Regions from separate parts of the Homo sapiens genome. Here region 1 is linked to region 2. Evidence: fine-mapped expression QTL. A gene starts in region 2. The other region holds a variant in brackets. All regions are shown on one strand. Distances are between the middles of the regions.

Region 1 (8,000 bases), 140 kb after region 2:
TTTCTACGTAAGAAATTTCATGGCTGGGCGCGGTGGCTCATGCCTGTAATCCCAGCACTTTGGGAGGCCAAGGTGGGTGGATCATGAGGTCAGGAGTTCAAGACCAGCCTGGCCAACATAGTGAAACCCCGTCTCTACTAAAAATACAAAAATTAGCCGGGCATGGTGATGCGTGCCTGTAGTCCCAGCTACTCGGGAGGCTGAGGCAGGAGAATCACTTGAACCCAGTAGGTGGACGTTGCAGTGAGCCGAGATCGTGCCACTGCATTCCAGACTTGGCAACAGAACGAGACTCCGTCTCAAAAAAAAAAAAAAAAAAGAGACATTTCATTAATCTTTATCACTTTTGGCATTATTTGTCAACTGAGGGAGAAATTAACTAATTATTTCACATTTACTTTTGAAGGCCAGCAGTAATCCCAGGAACTTGAGACCAACCTGGGCAACACAGGGAGACCCTGTCTCTTGAAAACATTTTTTAAAAATTAGCCAGGTATGGCTGAACATAGTGGCTCATGTCTGTAATCCCAGCACATTGGGAGGCCGAGGCAGGTAGATCACTTGAGCTCATGAATTCTAGACCAGCCTGGGCAAACATGGCAAAACCCCATCTCTAAAAAAAATAAAAAATTAGATGGGTGAGGTAGCGCCTGTGCCAGCTACTCAGGAGGCTGAGGTGGGAGGACTGCTTGAGCCCAGGAGGCAGTGAGCTTAGATCACACCACTGCAGTCCAGCCTGCATGACAGAGAGTAAGACCCAGCCTCAAAAAAGCTATAATGGGCAAGGCAAGGTAACTCATGCCTGTAATCCCAGCACTTTGGGAGGCCAAGGTGGGCGGATCGCTTGAGCTCACAAGTTTGAGACCAGCCTAGCCAATAGGGCGAAAGAAACCCTGTCTCTACAAAAGCATGGTGACACATGCCTGTGGTTCCAACTACTCATGAGGCAGAGGTGAGAGGATCGCTTGAATCTGGGATGCAGAGGTTGCAGTGAGCCGAGATCCTACCACTGAACTCCAGCCTGCGTGACAGAGTGAGACCCCCATCTCAAACAAACAAACAAACAAACTATAATGACTTCCAGCCTGGTTAATTTTAACAAATTCCTAGTAAAAATTTGGAAAGACCCGATGACATTTTTCAACTAGATTTTTTTTTTTTTTTAAGACCGAGTCTCACTCTCTTGCCCAACCTGGAGGGCAGTGTCCTGATCTCAGCTCACTGCAACCTCCACCTCCCGGGTTGAAGCAATTCTCATGCCTCAGCCTCCCGAGTAGCTGGGACTACAGCCATGAGCCACCACGCCCAACTAATTTTTGTGTTTTTAGTAGAGATGAGGTTTCCCCATGTTGGCCAGGCTAGTCTCGAACTCTGGATCTCAGGTGATCTGCCCACCTCAGCCTCCCAAAGTGCTGAAATTACAGGAGTGAGCCACAGCGCCCGGCCTCAATTAGATTCAATCTGTGCTTTTTCCCACTGAGTAGCAGCCAAAATTAAGAAACAGAAACAAGTGCCTAGAACAGTGGCTCACACCTGTAATCTCAGCACTTTGGCAGGCTGAGGCAGGTGGATCTGTTGAAACCAGGAGTTCAAGAACAGCCCGGCCAACATGGTGAAACCCCATCTCTACTAAAAATACAAATATTAGCCAGGCGTGGAGGAGGCTAGAGGAGGAGAATCACCTGAACCCAGGAGGCAGAGGTTGCAAGTGTGCCAAGATCATGCCACAGCACTCCAGGCTGGACTCTATCTCAAAAAACAAAAACAAAAAAAAAAAAAAAGAAAGAAAGAAACAGAAAACAGGTTTATAAATAACCCAATGTTCACAGGAAAAATTCAGGTAAAAAAAATATAATTTCAATCGTTTGCACAAAAAATAGAGGCCTAGATGGAAGGATTACTTGAGCCCAGGAGTTTGAGACCCAGCCTGGGCAAAATAGTAAGACCCTATCTCTATTTAGAAAAAAATTTTTTAAAAATAGGAGAATATAGGGAAAGGTCTATCTACACCTTGCCTACCCCTCCAATGTCATCCCTTCCTGCCCCACCCTCCCAGCCTAATCACGCCACACTGAATTTTTTTTTTTGAGACAGCATCTCACTCTGTCACCCAGGCTGGAGTGCATAATCAGAGCTCACTGCAGCCTGGAACTCCTGAGCTCAGATATCTTCCCACCTCAACCACCCAAGTAGCTGGGACCACAGGCACATGCCACTCCACCCAGCTAATTTATTTTTTTTGTAGAGGCCGGATCTCCCTATGTTCCCCAGGCTTGTCTCAAACTACTGGGCTCAAGCTAGACTCCCACCTCAGTCTCCTAAAGTGCTGCGATCACAGGCATCAGCCCCCATGCCTGGCCCATACTCAACTTTTTATTCTCCCAAAGCAGCAGCTTTGGGAGAATAAAATTACTCCTGTAATTTCAGCACTTTGGGAGGCTGAAGTGGGCAGATCACCTGAGGTCCAGAAGTTGAGACTAGCCTGGCCAACATGGGGAAACCTCATCTCTACTAAAAACACAAAAATTAGCTGGGCGTGGTGGCTCATGGCTGTAGTCCCAGCTACTTGGGAGGCTGAGGCATGAGAACTGCTTCAACCTGGGAAGGGGAGGTTGCAGTCCTTATAATCCTAGATCATGCTCCTCTCAAGCAAGCACATGTTGCCCTGCCTCAGGTACAATGATACTCCTATCTTACCAGTGCCTGGGACATAGTAGGCAACTCAAAAAAACAACTGAGTGACAAATAAATAAATAAAAGGGCTGTCCCAGTTAATGTTAGCAATTTTCAAAATGCAAAATTACCAAAAAAAGTCCTTGATAAACTCTCTTTTAATTGAGAACTTAAGAAGTAATTGCAGGCGGGGCACAGTGGCTCACTCCTGTAATCCCAACACTTTGGGAGGCTGAGGAAGGCAGGTCACTTGATGTCAGGAGTTCGAGACCAGCCTGGCCAACATGGTGAAAGCCCGTCACTACTAAAAATACAAAAAAATCAGCCGGGCGTCGTGGCACGTGCCTGTAACCCCAGCTACTCAAGAGGCTGACACAGGAGAATCTCTTGAACCTGGGAGGTGGAGGCTGCAGCGAGCCTAGAGTGTGGATTCCAGCCTGTGCGACAGAGTGAAACTCTGTCTCAAAAACAAAAAACAAAAGAAAAGAAAAAAAAACACATTAAAAAATGAAGTAAAGCTCATTCAAGGGTAATCTTGAAGACAGTATTACCCTGATACCAACACCAGACAAAGACATCACAAGAACACTGTACACTTAGCCGGGTACAGTAGCTCATGCCTGTAATCCCAGCACTTGGGAAGGCGGAGGCAGGCACATCACCTGAGGTCAGTAGTTCAAGATCAGCCTGGCCAACATGGTGAAACTCCATCTCTACAAAAACACAAAAAAATTATTCAGGCATGGTGGTGCACACCTGTGGTCCCAGGTACTCAGGAGGCTGAAGCAGGAGAATCGCTTGAGCCAGGGAGGCAGAGGTTGCAGTGAGCTAAGATCACACCGCTGCATTCCAGCCTGGGCCACAGAGCGAGACTCCATTTAAAAAAAAAAA[A/T]ATATATTCGGCCGGGTGCAGTGGTTCACACCTGTAATCCCAGCACTTTGGGAGGCCGAGGCAGGCGGATCACCTGAGGTCAGGAGTTCGAGACCAGTCTCAACACGGAGAAACCCCATCTCTAACAAAAATACAAAATTAGCCAGGCGTGGTGGTATATGCCTGCAATCCCAGCTACTCGGGAGGCTGAGGCAGAATTGCTTGAACGTGGGAGGCGGAGGTTGCGGTTAGCCAAGATCGCACCATTGCACTCCAGCCTGGGCAACAAGAGCGAAACTCCGTCTCAAAAAAAAAAAAAAAAAAATTCAGACTTAGGCCAGACTTGGTGGCTCATGCATGTAATCTCAGCACTTTGGAAGGCTTAGGTGGGCGGTTCACCTGAGGTCAGGAGTTTTGAGACCAACCTAACCAATGCGGTGAAACCTCGTCTCTACTAAAAATACAAAAATTAACCAGGTGTGGTGTCACACACCTGTAATCCTAGCTACTTGGGAAGCTGAGGCACCGGAATCGCTTGAACCAGGGAGATGGGTTACAGGGAGCCAAGATACTGCCACCGCACTCCAGCCTGGACAACCGAGTGAGACTGTGTCTCAAAAACAAACAAACAAACAAAAAAAAAAACTGGAAAGAAAAAGGGAAAAAGAACAACTGCAGACTTAATTCATCCTTCATGAATTAAGACAAAAAATCCGGGCATGGTGGCGAGTGCCTGTAATCCCAGCAACTCGGGAGGCTGAGGTACAAGAATCACTTGAACCCCGGAGGCGGAGGCTGCCATAAGCCAAAATGGCACCACTGCACTCCTGCCTGGGTGACAGAGTGAGACTCCATCTCATTCATTCATTCATATATATATATATATATCATTCATATATATATATATATATATATATATAAAATCATTCATATATATGTGTGTATATATGTGTGTGTATATATATATGTGTGTATATATACACACACACACACACAAACTATATATAAAAAACTTTCCAAAGGTATTAAAGATCTAAATATTTAAGTTGGTGCAAAATAATTCCAGTTTTTGCCATTACTTCCTTTTTTTTTTTTTTGAGATGAAGTCTCACTTCATCACCTAGCCTGGAGTGCAGTGGTGCAATCTTGGCTCACTGCAGCCTCAGCTTCCTGGGCTCAAGCGATGCTACCACCTCAGTCGCCCTAGTAGCTGGGATTACAGGCTAAAATTAAAAAGACAGCAATAAATGTTGATGAGAATATTAAGAATTTAGAACCCACGCCCGGATGCAGTGGCTCATGCCTGTAATCTCGGCACTTTGGGAGGCCGAGGTGGGTGAATCACCTGAGGTCAGGAGTTCAAGACCAACCTGGCCAATGTGGTGAAACCCTGTCACTACCAAAAATACAAACATTAGCCAGGCGTGGTGGCGGGCGCCTGTAGTCCAAGCTACTTGGGAGGCTGAGGCAGAGAATTGCTTGAACCCGAGAGGCGGAGGCTGCAGTGAGCCAAGACCATGCCACTGCACTCCAGCCTGGGCTACAGAGGGAGACTCTGTTCTAAAAAAAGAAAGAAAGAAAGAAAGAAAAGAAAGAAAAGAAAGAAAAGAAAGAAAAGAAAGAAAGAAAGAAAGAAAGAAAGAAAGAAAGAAAGAAAGAAAGAAAGAAAGAAAGAAAGAAATTAGAACCCATATAGGCTAAAGTAGGACTGTAAAACGGTGCAACCACTATGTAAAACAGTCTGGCTGTTCCTCAAAATGCTAAACATAGAATGACCCTATGATCCGACAATACCACTTCTAGGTATTTTCCCAAGAGAACTGAAAACATATATTCACGCTAAAACTTTAATACAAATTTTCACAGTAGCACTGCCTGTAACAGCCACAAAGTGGAAGAAACAAAATGTCCGTCAAGTGATGAAAAGACAAACAAAAAGTGGCATCAGTACAAAGCAATATTCAGCAGTAAAATGGAATGAAGTATGCATACATACAACAACATAAATGGGCCTTAAAACATTATGCTAAGTTAAACAAGTCAGACACGAAAGGCCACAAATTATATGACTGTATTTGTATGAAACGCCTAGAATAGGCAAATACATAGAAACATGAATTAGATTAGTGGTTGTGAGGGGCTAGAGGAGACTTAATGGGAAATGACTGCTGGGAATGGGTTTTCTTTTGGGGTGATGAAAGGTTCTGGAATTAGACAGTGGTAACAGTTGTTCAACTCTACACCCTTTAAGTAGCTGCATTTTATTCTTTATTTTTGAGATACAGTTTCACCCTGTAGCCCAGGGACTGAGTGCAGACTCAGCGTCCTGAGTAGGTGGATTACAGGTGTATGCCACCACACCGGGCTAATTTTTGTATTTTTAGTAGAGATGGGGTTTCACCATGTTGGCCAGGCTGGTCTCAAACTCCCTGACCTCAAGTGATCTGCCCACCTCTACCTCCCAAAGTGCTGGGATTACAGGCATGAGCCACTGCGCCTGGCCAAAGAGGGTGAATTTTATCTTATGTGAATTATATATTTTTTTTTTCTTGGAGACGAAGTTTCGCTCTTGTTGCCCAGGCTGGAGTGCAACAGCACGATCTCCGCTCACCACAACCTCCACCTCTCAGGTTCAAGCAATTCTCCTACCTCAGCCTCCCGAGTAGCTGGGATTACAGCCATGCGCCACCACACCAGCTAATTTTGTATTTTTAGTAGAGACAAAGTTTCACCATGTTGGTCAGGCTGGTCTCAAACTCCTGACCTCAGGTGATCCATCCACCTCAGCCTCCAAAAGTGCTAGGATTACAGTTGTGAGCCACCGTACCCGGCCTATACTTTGATTTTTAAAATGCAATTAGTATACATTTATTTATTCACTTATTTATTTAGAGACGGAGTCTTGCTAATGCAGTTAGTATACATTTATTTATTTATTTATTTATTTAGAGACAGAGTCTCGCTCTGTCCTCCAGGCTGGAATGCCGTGGTGCGATCTCAGCTCAAAGCAACCTCTGCCTCCTGGGCACAAGCTATTCTCCTGCCTCAGCCTAAGACGGGGTTCCACCATGTTGGCCAGGCTGGTCTTGAACTCCTGACCTCAGAAGATCTGCCCGCCCCAGCCTCCCAAAGTGCTGGGATTACAGGTATGAGCCACCACCATGCCTTTAAATTTGCAACTATATAACCAATATACATTAAAACATGACATACTATAAAAAATTCTTATGTAAAATAGTATCAAGTATTAGCTTGATTGTTTTTCATGAAGAGGGGGTCTTGATATTATTGCCAAGGCAGGTCTTGAACTCCTGGGCTCAAGCAATCCACTTGCCTCAGCCACCCAAAGTCCTGGGACTAGAGGCCATGAGCCACCGCTCCAAGCCAAGTCTGATTTTTTAAGTTCATGCTTTAACAAAAATTCTCTTAAAAATCTAAAAAAGGCCCGGCGGAGGCTTACGCCTGTAATTCCAACACTTTGGGAGGCTGAGGAAGACAGATCACGAGGTCTAAAGAACGAGACCATCCTGGCCAACATGGTGAAAGCCTGTCTCTACAAAAAATACAAAAATTAGCTGGGCATAGTGGTATGCACCTGTAGTCCCAGCCACTCAGGAGGCTGAGGCAAGAGAATCACTTCAACCCAGGAGGCAGAGGTTGCAGTGAGCCAAGATCGCGCCACTGCACTCCAGCCTGGAGACAGAGCAAGACTCCATCTCAAAAAAAAAAAAAAAAAAAAAAAAATCTGAAAAGAGCGAGGGAAGAGTACGGAGGAATAAATATTTATTGGTCCCTAAATGCCCTAGAATACCTAGGGTATTCCATATTCGAAGGTATTTAGGGTCCAATAAATATTTATTATTCCTTTTCCCCCTCAACTACAATAATTAATCTTCATTAAGAATCCCCATGCAGGCCAGACGCAGTGGCTCACACCTGTAATCCCAGCACTTTGGGAGGCTGAGTCGGGCATATCACCTGAGGTCAGGAGTTCGAGACCAGCCTGGCCGACATGGTGAAACCTGTCTCTACCAAAATTACAAAAAATTACCTGGGTGTATTTTGTAAAAATACAAAAATTAGCGGACACCTGTAATCCCAGCTACTGGGGAAGCTGAGGCAGAAGAATTGCTTAACCCAGGAGGCAGAGGTTGCAGTGAACCGAGATTGTGTCATTGCACTCTAGCCTGGGCGACAGAGTGAGACTCTGGTCTCAAAAAATAAACAAATAAATAAATAAGAATAAAAATAAATTGCATATATACAGTTGTTCACTTTCAGAATGTATGAACAGGAAATATCTATACATTCATGCAAAATAAAACCATCCAGGTTTAAAAAAAAAAAAAAAAAAAAAGCCAGTGCGGTGGCTTATGCCTATAATCCCAGCACATTGGGAGGCCAAGGCAGGCAGATCACCTGAGGTCAGGAGTTCGAGACCAGCTTAGCCGACATGG
Region 2 (8,000 bases):
CCACTGCACTCCAGCCTGGGCGACAGAGCGAGACTCTGTTTCAAAAAAAAAAAACAAAAAACAAAAGAAACGGGGAGACCTGGTAACACCGGGCCTGTTTCCCATGACAGCACATGCCTGGCTCCTGAGCCAGAGTGTACACGCAGCAGTGCACCCTGCTCCCAGTTCCCACCCCTGGACGCCACAGCACTCCAGTCCTTTATCCTTGACTAGGCCCCAAATGCCTTTGAGATTGTGGTGCCCCCCCACCCCCAATCTAGGCAGCACCCTGACAGGACGTGTGCATGGCCGGAAAGGGGCTGGCTTTCTGGAGGATGTGGGTGCAACCCTCTGGGGCCTGGATTTAGTCGCCACCTGCCCGGAGTGGGCATTGGCCCTGTGGCCGTGGCCCGGTACTGAGTGGTGCTGGGGTGCAGCCCAAGCCCCCACGCCGCTGACCCCAGCCCCTTGCTCCTTTGGGATCCGCAGAAGCTGGAGGATCAGGAGCAGCGGGCCCGACAGCTCAAGGAGAGGCTGCGCAGCAAGCAGCAGAGCCTGCAGCGGCAGCTGGAGCAGCTCCGGGGGCTGGCAGGGGCGGCCGAGCGGGAGCGGCTGCGGGCGGACAGTCTGGACTCCTCAGGCCTCTCCTCTGAGCGCTCAGACTCAGACCAAGGTGAGTGCCCCGAGGCTGAGGGGTTGTGTGGCCCTCGGGGCGAGCCAGGTCTTCTGACCGGACCCCTCCCCGCGCAGAGGAGCTGGAGGTGGATGTGGAGAGCCTGGTGTTTGGGGGTGAGGCCGAGCTGCTGCGGGGCTTCGTCGCCGGCCAGGAGCACAGCTACTCGCACGGCGGCGGCGCCTGGCTATGATGTTCCTCACCCAGGGCGGGCCTCTGCCCTCTACTCGTGCCAGGCCCACTTGCCAGGCAGGAGCCCTCCCCAAGCCTTCAGGGCTGCTCGGAGTCACCTGTTGGAATGGACTAAAAGGACCCTTGTGTGGGAACAGGTGCTCCCCAAACACCCTGCTGCTGGCTGCCAGGCAGGCCCTCTGGAAGGGAAGGGGCAGGACTCATCAGGACCTCCCTGGACCCCTGCAGGGCAGGCAGCTTGGGCCCGAGCCCAAGCATTTGGCTCTGCTGCCCCCAAGGGGACAGGAAGCCTCTTGGGCCTCTTCCCTTCCTGGACAAGGCCCCCTGCCTTTGCCTCACATAAACTGTACAGTATTTTCATTAAAAGCCTCTTTCATAACTTCCCGTCCATAGTCTTGCCTAATGAAAACGGGGGAACTCCCAACCACAGACCCACTGGAAGAGGAAATAATATCAGTTCCCATCACTGACACTGTTGGCCGTGCCAGGCAGTGCACTTAATTCTCACAACTTGAGGCTGTTCTGTCTCCACTTCACGGATGGTAGAAATGAGGCTGAGTGACGTGACTCGCCTGAGGTCCAAAAACAGTGAAGCCAAGATTCAAACCAGAGCCTTCCGACTCCAGAGCTGGGGCCAACTGAATTCAACAAGTATTTATTGAGTGTCTATTATGTGCTAGATACTGAGACACATCAGAGAACAAAACCAAAAGCCCTGCCCTTGTCGGGCTTACAGTCTAGCACTTACCGCCAGTTAACCTGCAGGCTACCTGGAGCCCCGGGCAAGTCACCGCACCTCTGTGCCTCGGTCCTCAGCTGCCCAATGGGAGAATAAGCAGACCTGGCTCAGACATGAATCATGTGCTTGGTGTACTGCAGATGCCAAACTGCATCCCCACAACCCACCACGTAGACAGCAGACAGGGCTGGAAGTTGATTTTTAATGATAAAGTACAATGAAGGGAGGGCAGAGAGGCTAAGCCTAGCTGTCTGGGGTGCTGTGGTGGTGGTAGACTGGCTACACAAACTGTTGCTGCTGCTGCTGCTTCTTGGTGGCCGCCTTGCTGGCGAGGTCCTTGGCCTTCTCTGTAGCTGCCAGTGCCGTCTCCTTTGCCTTCTCCTTGGCTTCCTTGGCTGTCTCAACAAGTGTTTTGGAAGGGGCCTCGCCTGTCGCGAACGGCAGGTGGCTGCCTTTAGAAGATGCCTGAAAGACCAACCTAATTTCCCTCCCCCATGACACCAATCTCCTCTGGGCCAGGCTCCACTAAAAAGGTGGTATTCACCCTCCTCCCACCCCCAGTACAGACAAGGAGTCCCAGCTCAGAGCAGGGCAATGACTAACCCAGACTCCACGCCCGCTAGGCTGAATGAGCCTCTCCCTATGAGGAATATCCACATACCCAGAAACTCACCTTGCAGCTTAGCCAAGATATATTCAAAACCCTTCATAGTCTTGGTCACGTTGCTTTTGAATCGGGCAAGACCAAATTCCTGGCATGAGATGAGAATGGGAAGGATACTGAGTTGCCCACTGACCCCAGCCCAGCCCCAACACCGAAAGCACTGGGTCCCAGAGCCCCAGCAGCCCCAACAACACTGCTCACCTGGACAGCTCTGGAGACACCAAATAAGCTAGAGGAGACCCAGGCTTCCCGGCGGATTTCAGTCCAGCCACTGTTGTCAGAGTTCACACAGTAAACACATCGTTCCTCCACCACCTATGCAGAGGCCAACCACAATCGTGGAACAGTCTTTCATTTTGCCAACTTGCACATAAATCTGACTCCCTGTCACTTTTCATGAGGCGAAGCAATACAATGAAAATCCATTCCTTCCCCTGACTGCACCTCCAAGTGGCACTGACAGAACAAGAAGCCATAAATAAGGTCGTTTTGCTCTCGAAAACCTCTCTTCTGACTCTTAAACTAGAAGGCAAAAGGTCTCTCTCTTGAGATCAACAAAGGGCCTTCCAGCCCATCCTGCTCCTGGATTTTGTTTTGTGCATCTAGACGCATGCAGTGTTTTAGCCGCCTTCCACCAGCTGCAGCTCTGGAGCTTCCTGACAGTCCAAATAAAAACATTTGCCCGGCGCGGTGGCTCACGCCTGTAATCTTAGCACTTTGGGAGGCCGAGGCGGGCGGATCACTTGAGGTTAGGAGTTCGAGACCAGCCTGGCCAACATGGTAAAACCTTGTCTGTACTAAAAATACAAAAATTAGCCAGGCGTGGTGGTGTGTGCTTAGAAATCCACCTCTTCAGAAGGCTGAGGCACGAGAATTGCTTAAACCCAGGAGGTGGCAGTGGCAGTGAGGTGAGATCATGTCACTACACTCCAACCTGGGTGAGACTCTTGTCACCAGAAAAAAACAAAAAACAGAAAAAAAAAAAAGAAAAGCACTGCCTCCGCCACTCAGCATCACTCCTGTGAGTCCAACATATATCTGTGCCATAGATGCCAGATGGGAGCGCTTTGCATTTAGAACTTAGGACAACTCCGTAAGATAGGTACCCCTCCCCCACTGTATGAATGAGTCAAAGGACAGGTCCAGAGAGGATGGCCAGCTGAAAAGAAGAAAACCTGAGGTCATACTCTACAGCTGTCAACCCTCAGTAACCCAGACCTGCCTCCGGCCACAAAAGCTGCCTTATGGCTCTCTAGCCACATGTATCTGAGGAGCTCTCTATCTCGGGGGGAGGGGAGAGGGGGAGGTGCAGAATCACAACAGGAGGTGTCTCACCATCAGCCGGGCGTGGTTGATGTTCCAGGTGAAGGTAGTCATGGTCTGATTCTGTGGGTCCACAATAGAGTCCTCCAGGACGTACACCGAGTGAGCAACATTGGCAGGAAATAGTCGCTCGGCCCAGCGTGGCATCCTGTTGGTCTTGGTCAGGAGTCGCCGGGACAGCAGTTTCTGGTCAGGGGTCACCTCCCGGTGTACTATGTCTTCCGTCAAGACATGTTTGCTGCAGGTGTCAGGGTGAAGGTGACCCTCAGAAGCTTGCCCCTAAGAGACTGCCCGAGGGGATTCCCATTTGGAGGCTCCGGGCCTAGAGAGGCCACGCCTTCCCGTAACCTTGCAGGGTGGTATGTGCTATGGTTCAAACCAGAGTTAAGGGCCCATCCCAGGGCAAATTCCCACTCCCGCCATCTGACTGACCTGGATTCCTGCCTTCTAGCAGGAATGGACCTCATGATTTATTGCACCCCAGGAAAGCGCCACGGGCAGAGAAATAGGATTTCCAACTCCAAGATCCCTCCCAACTCCCATACTGCCGCCTCTTCTTGTCTCACCACACTGAGAAAAGAATCTTACACTAAGGTCTCAAGTAAACCACCACCCAGGCCCAACCTCCCTTCAGGACCTTGCAGGCCTGGCCTGGCCGCTTCCCCGATAAGGTCTACCTAGGATTCGATATCGAGTCCTTCCTGGTCCCAGTACTTGGGGGTTACCCATAATTCGATCTCCAGATAGCGAGATGGCGCGGTTTTGCTCTTCCAAATACCACGTACCTATAGGGATTCGGGTACCGCTGCCAGAAGGCGGCGAACACTTGGTCCCAGGAACTCCGGAGCACGCTCTGGCCCAGGAAATACTTCACCATCGTCCCGGCCGAAGCGGGCTCAGCACCCGCGCAGCATCAGGGGTGCGGAGCCTGGGAGGCACGCGAGGGCCGGGCCGGGCCGGGGCTCGGCGCACACCCGCCGCCAGGCTCGTAGCTCAGTCACCACCGCACCGCGCCCAAGCAGCTGCCGCCGCCGCCGCCGCCGCCATGAGTTGTCCGGCCGCGCGCCACTTCCGGCGCAGCCACACAGTAGCCACCGCTTCCGGCGCCCGCGCCACGTGACCTTGCGGCCCCGCCCCCTCGCCCTCTAGCCCCCTCCCGCGGGAGTCGCGGCGCTGCGGGTAGGAGCCGGGTTGCGGGAGACCCCAGGTTCGGTTGGGATTCCCAGCCAGAACGGAGCTTAAGCCGGGCAGGCGAGCGAATGACGGAGTAGCGAGCTGCACGGCGGCGTGCTGCGCTGTTGAGGACGCTGTCCCGCGCGCTCCCAGGCCGCCCCGAGGCTTGGGGTCTTCGAAGGATAATCGGCGCCCGGGGCCGAACAGCGGGGGCACACGGGGCGCTGCCGAAGTGCAAGGCCACGGCCAGAGCTCGAGCCCGACGCGCTGTCTGGAGTCGTAGGTTGGCGCCGTTTGGGGTCGGGGTCTGAGGCTTGGGCGCTGCCTGGGCCGAGCGGAGATCGGGGTTTGCCTCCCGTCCCCGCTCAGGACCCTGACGTGGCTGAAGCGGCCCCGGGAGCATGAGCGGGCAGCGCGTGGACGTCAAGGTGGTGATGCTGGGCAAGGAGTACGTGGGCAAGACTAGCCTGGTGGAGCGCTACGTGCACGACCGCTTTCTGGTGGGGCCTTATCAGAACGTGAGTGCATCCGGAGGGGCCAGGCACGGTGGGCGGGGGAGTGGGGGGCCGGTAATCTGCACCTATGGCCCCGATCTCTTCCCTCTCGTTGCAGACCATCGGGGCCGCCTTCGTGGCCAAGGTGATGTCGGTCGGAGACCGGACTGTGACATTAGGTATTTGGGTAAGTCCCCCGGCCATCTATTCTTGGGAGACTCATTCCTGAGGAGGTGTAGGTCCTGCCTATTACTGGTTGATTTGTGGCCTCACAGACCCATTTCTCATAGACCCGTTTCCTTATCTGGAAAATAGCGGGGTCTGGAGAACGTGGCCTTAAGTTTGACTCAGGCCTTACTCTTTAGGACACAGCAGGCTCTGAGCGCTATGAGGCCATGAGTAGAATCTACTATCGGGGTGCCAAGGCTGCCATCGTCTGCTATGGTAAGGGGGGGGGGGGTTTGGGCTGTCTCACAAGAAAAGATGGGTGCCAGGCTAGCCAGAGAACAGCCCTTGACCACTTGGTTGTCTCCTGCATGCCGCACACCAAGACCTCACAGACAGCAGCAGCTTTGAGCGAGCAAAGTTCTGGGTGAAGGAACTGCGCAGCCTAGAGGAGGTAGGTGAACAGACCTCACTAGAACACTAGGGGCTGGGGTTTTGTTGGCCTGTGGAGGTGACCCTTGTCTTCTGCCTCAGGGCTGCCAAATCTACTTATGTGGCACCAAGAGTGACCTGCTGGAAGAAGACCGGAGGCGTCGACGTGTGGACTTCCACGACGTCCAGGACTATGCAGACAGTAGCTGCTCCTCAGCCCTTTGGGGGGTGGGGGTGTGTGGCTGTCTGGGTGGATCAAAGAAAATAGGGACTGCCTTGGCTGCCAGGGCAAGGTGCTCTAGGAGGTCTTCCTGGCCTCCTTGAACTGTGGGGTCCAGGAGACTCCCTGAACTGCTAGCCCTCCCTTTTGTCTGTTTATCTAATTCTCAGGTATGAGGCTTTAGTCACTTCTCTTTACAGATATCAAAGCTCAGCTCTTTGAAACATCCAGCAAGACAGGCCAGAGTGTGGGTGAGTGCTGTGCTGGAGCCTCACAGCAGGAACATGCAGGGGCACCAGAGGAAGCTGAATAGGGCACAGAGGGCTGGGTCACTGGGAGATCCCAGGGCTACTGGCATTGGGCCCTCGCTGATCATCATTTTTCCTGCCAGACGAGCTCTTCCAGAAAGTGGCAGAGGATTACGTCAGTGTGGCTGCCTTCCAGGTGATGACAGGTGTGTGCTTCCCCAGCCTTTATGGAGACTTACTCTAGGCCCACAGCATCTAGCCCCTTTCCTGAGTTACCTGATCCCAACAGAATGGTGCTGAGCTGCCACCTCTCTTTTTGACAGAGGACAAGGGCGTGGATCTGGGCCAGAAGCCAAACCCCTACTTCTACAGCTGTTGTCATCACTGAGTCAGCACTCACCTGGCCTGGGGGAATTAAAGGAATTCCCCGTAAGGGCTGGACCCAGCTCCTTTCTGGGCTTGGGTAGTCAAATGTCTGAGCTACCCCAGGTCCTCATGTCAGCAGAGTGGCGCCTGCCTGTGCTGGCCCATGGAACGGAGACAGCATTGGGCTGACTGTGGGCATGAGGAGGGATAAGGCTGATTTGGACCCCAGGCTTCTGCCCTGGACAGCACTTGTGTCTGCAGATTATTTAAGTGGCTTTTGATCTGTAAATAAAATCAGTGCACTGTGCATCACACCCAGCCCCTTTCCCTGCTGTGTGGATTAGGTGTCAAGACACCTAGTTCTTCCTGGGGCCACCCGGCTGGCCTCACTGCTTATATTAAGGCTCCTCCCAACTCTCATTTTCCTTTGGAAAACAAGACTTTTTTCCCCATGGTTACCGCTGAGATACTGGGGCTGTAGTAGTATAAAAGCTCACAGTTCCTTCTGAGTGCTGAAAAGAGTGCATGAGTTGCTTCGAAATAAAAGGGTCAAGCATTCCTACCTGAGACAGGTTGGTCTGACTAGCTCTACTGCATCTGTCATGTTTGGGCCCCTATGTCAGACCTGTGACTCAGGTCCTGAGCTTCCCAGTGACATCCTACAATGTGGTTTAATGGTAGGAAAGTCCTAAGTTCTGTAAGCCAGAAAGGTCTAATGGATCCAGATTTGGTTCCAATTCAGCTGCTAATTTAGAAAAGGGACTTAAATCCTCATCTTGAGTTTCTCATCTGTAAAATAAGGTGACTACTATGCAGCCCAAGGATTGTGAAGAAAGTGAAGAGTAACTCTAGTACTAAATGTTTTTCCCAATCTTCCCAAGCACTTTTTGCTGAAAGGGCAGGAAGTTCAGGACTAGGTCACAAAGGGAAGCAAACTCCCAAGTTTTCCCCAAAGAAGATCCAGATATTTCTGAGGAATCAGGTGTTAACTGTAAACAGGGCTGACACTTGCTGCTCAACCAGAAGGAAATTTATTGCAGCCCTTTCTGGTATGGAGGGTGTGGCCCCAGGCCAGGGGCTTTCCCTTAGTTTTATCCTTTGCCTCTGCTTTCCTGCCTTTATTTAGGCCTGGGCTGAGTCCTCTGCAGTGGCCAACACCTGCCTTGGAAAAATGTACAACTTAGCCAACATGGTCAGACTCACACTCAGAGAGTGCTTTGGTTCCACTTCCTTTTTAAAAACCAATTCCTCAAACTGCCCTTCCTTCATGAGTGATGGGGGCTTCCTGTGGAGGGAGACTGAAACTGAAACCAGCCACTCCCAACAGAGGGA

Alleles and levels. Positions count from the first base shown, and alleles are read on the strand shown. Sizes are in standard deviations (SD) of each study's normalised expression.
For the expression in skeletal muscle of the gene that starts at base 4,714 in region 2, allele A in region 1 goes with a lower level than allele T (small effect, 0.37 SD a copy in FUSION).

Evidence for each region. PIP is the estimated chance that this variant, and not a neighbour inherited with it, causes the effect.
Region 1: its variant is fine-mapped to the expression of RAB24 in skeletal muscle (FUSION, PIP 0.95).

Annotation. Positions count from the first base shown.
Region 1 is chr5:177,155,462-177,163,461 of GRCh38, reverse strand. The region is part of intron 2 of NSD1 (nuclear receptor binding SET domain protein 1); the gene reads right to left. Among named protein-coding and RNA genes, the nearest start is that of NSD1, 26 kb to the right of the region's middle. RefSeq lists a silencer at 3,676-3,805. The variant A/T (reference allele first, on the strand shown) is at 3,565.
Region 2 is chr5:177,300,433-177,308,432 of GRCh38, reverse strand. RAB24 (RAB24, member RAS oncogene family) reads left to right here and starts at 4,714. Exons shown (of 8, transcript NM_001031677.4): 1 at 4,714-5,261; 2 at 5,356-5,424; 3 at 5,603-5,681; 4 at 5,789-5,856; 5 at 5,937-6,036; 6 at 6,255-6,305; 7 at 6,446-6,508; 8 at 6,626-7,235. The coding sequence starts at 5,145. The coding sequence ends at 6,690. It overlaps PRELID1 (PRELI domain containing 1), which reads right to left and starts at 4,634. Exons shown (of 5, transcript NM_013237.4): 1 at 4,356-4,634; 2 at 3,583-3,808; 3 at 2,449-2,562; 4 at 2,257-2,335; 5 at 1,484-2,011. The coding sequence starts at 4,447. The coding sequence ends at 1,863. MXD3 (MAX dimerization protein 3) reads left to right here. Exons shown (of 6, transcript NM_031300.4): 5 at 469-652; 6 at 730-1,223. The coding sequence ends at 845. RefSeq lists enhancers at 911-990, 3,504-3,573, 3,584-3,653, 3,804-3,863, 3,884-3,933 and 5 more and silencers at 4,374-4,513, 4,624-4,703, 4,754-4,823, 7,853-8,000.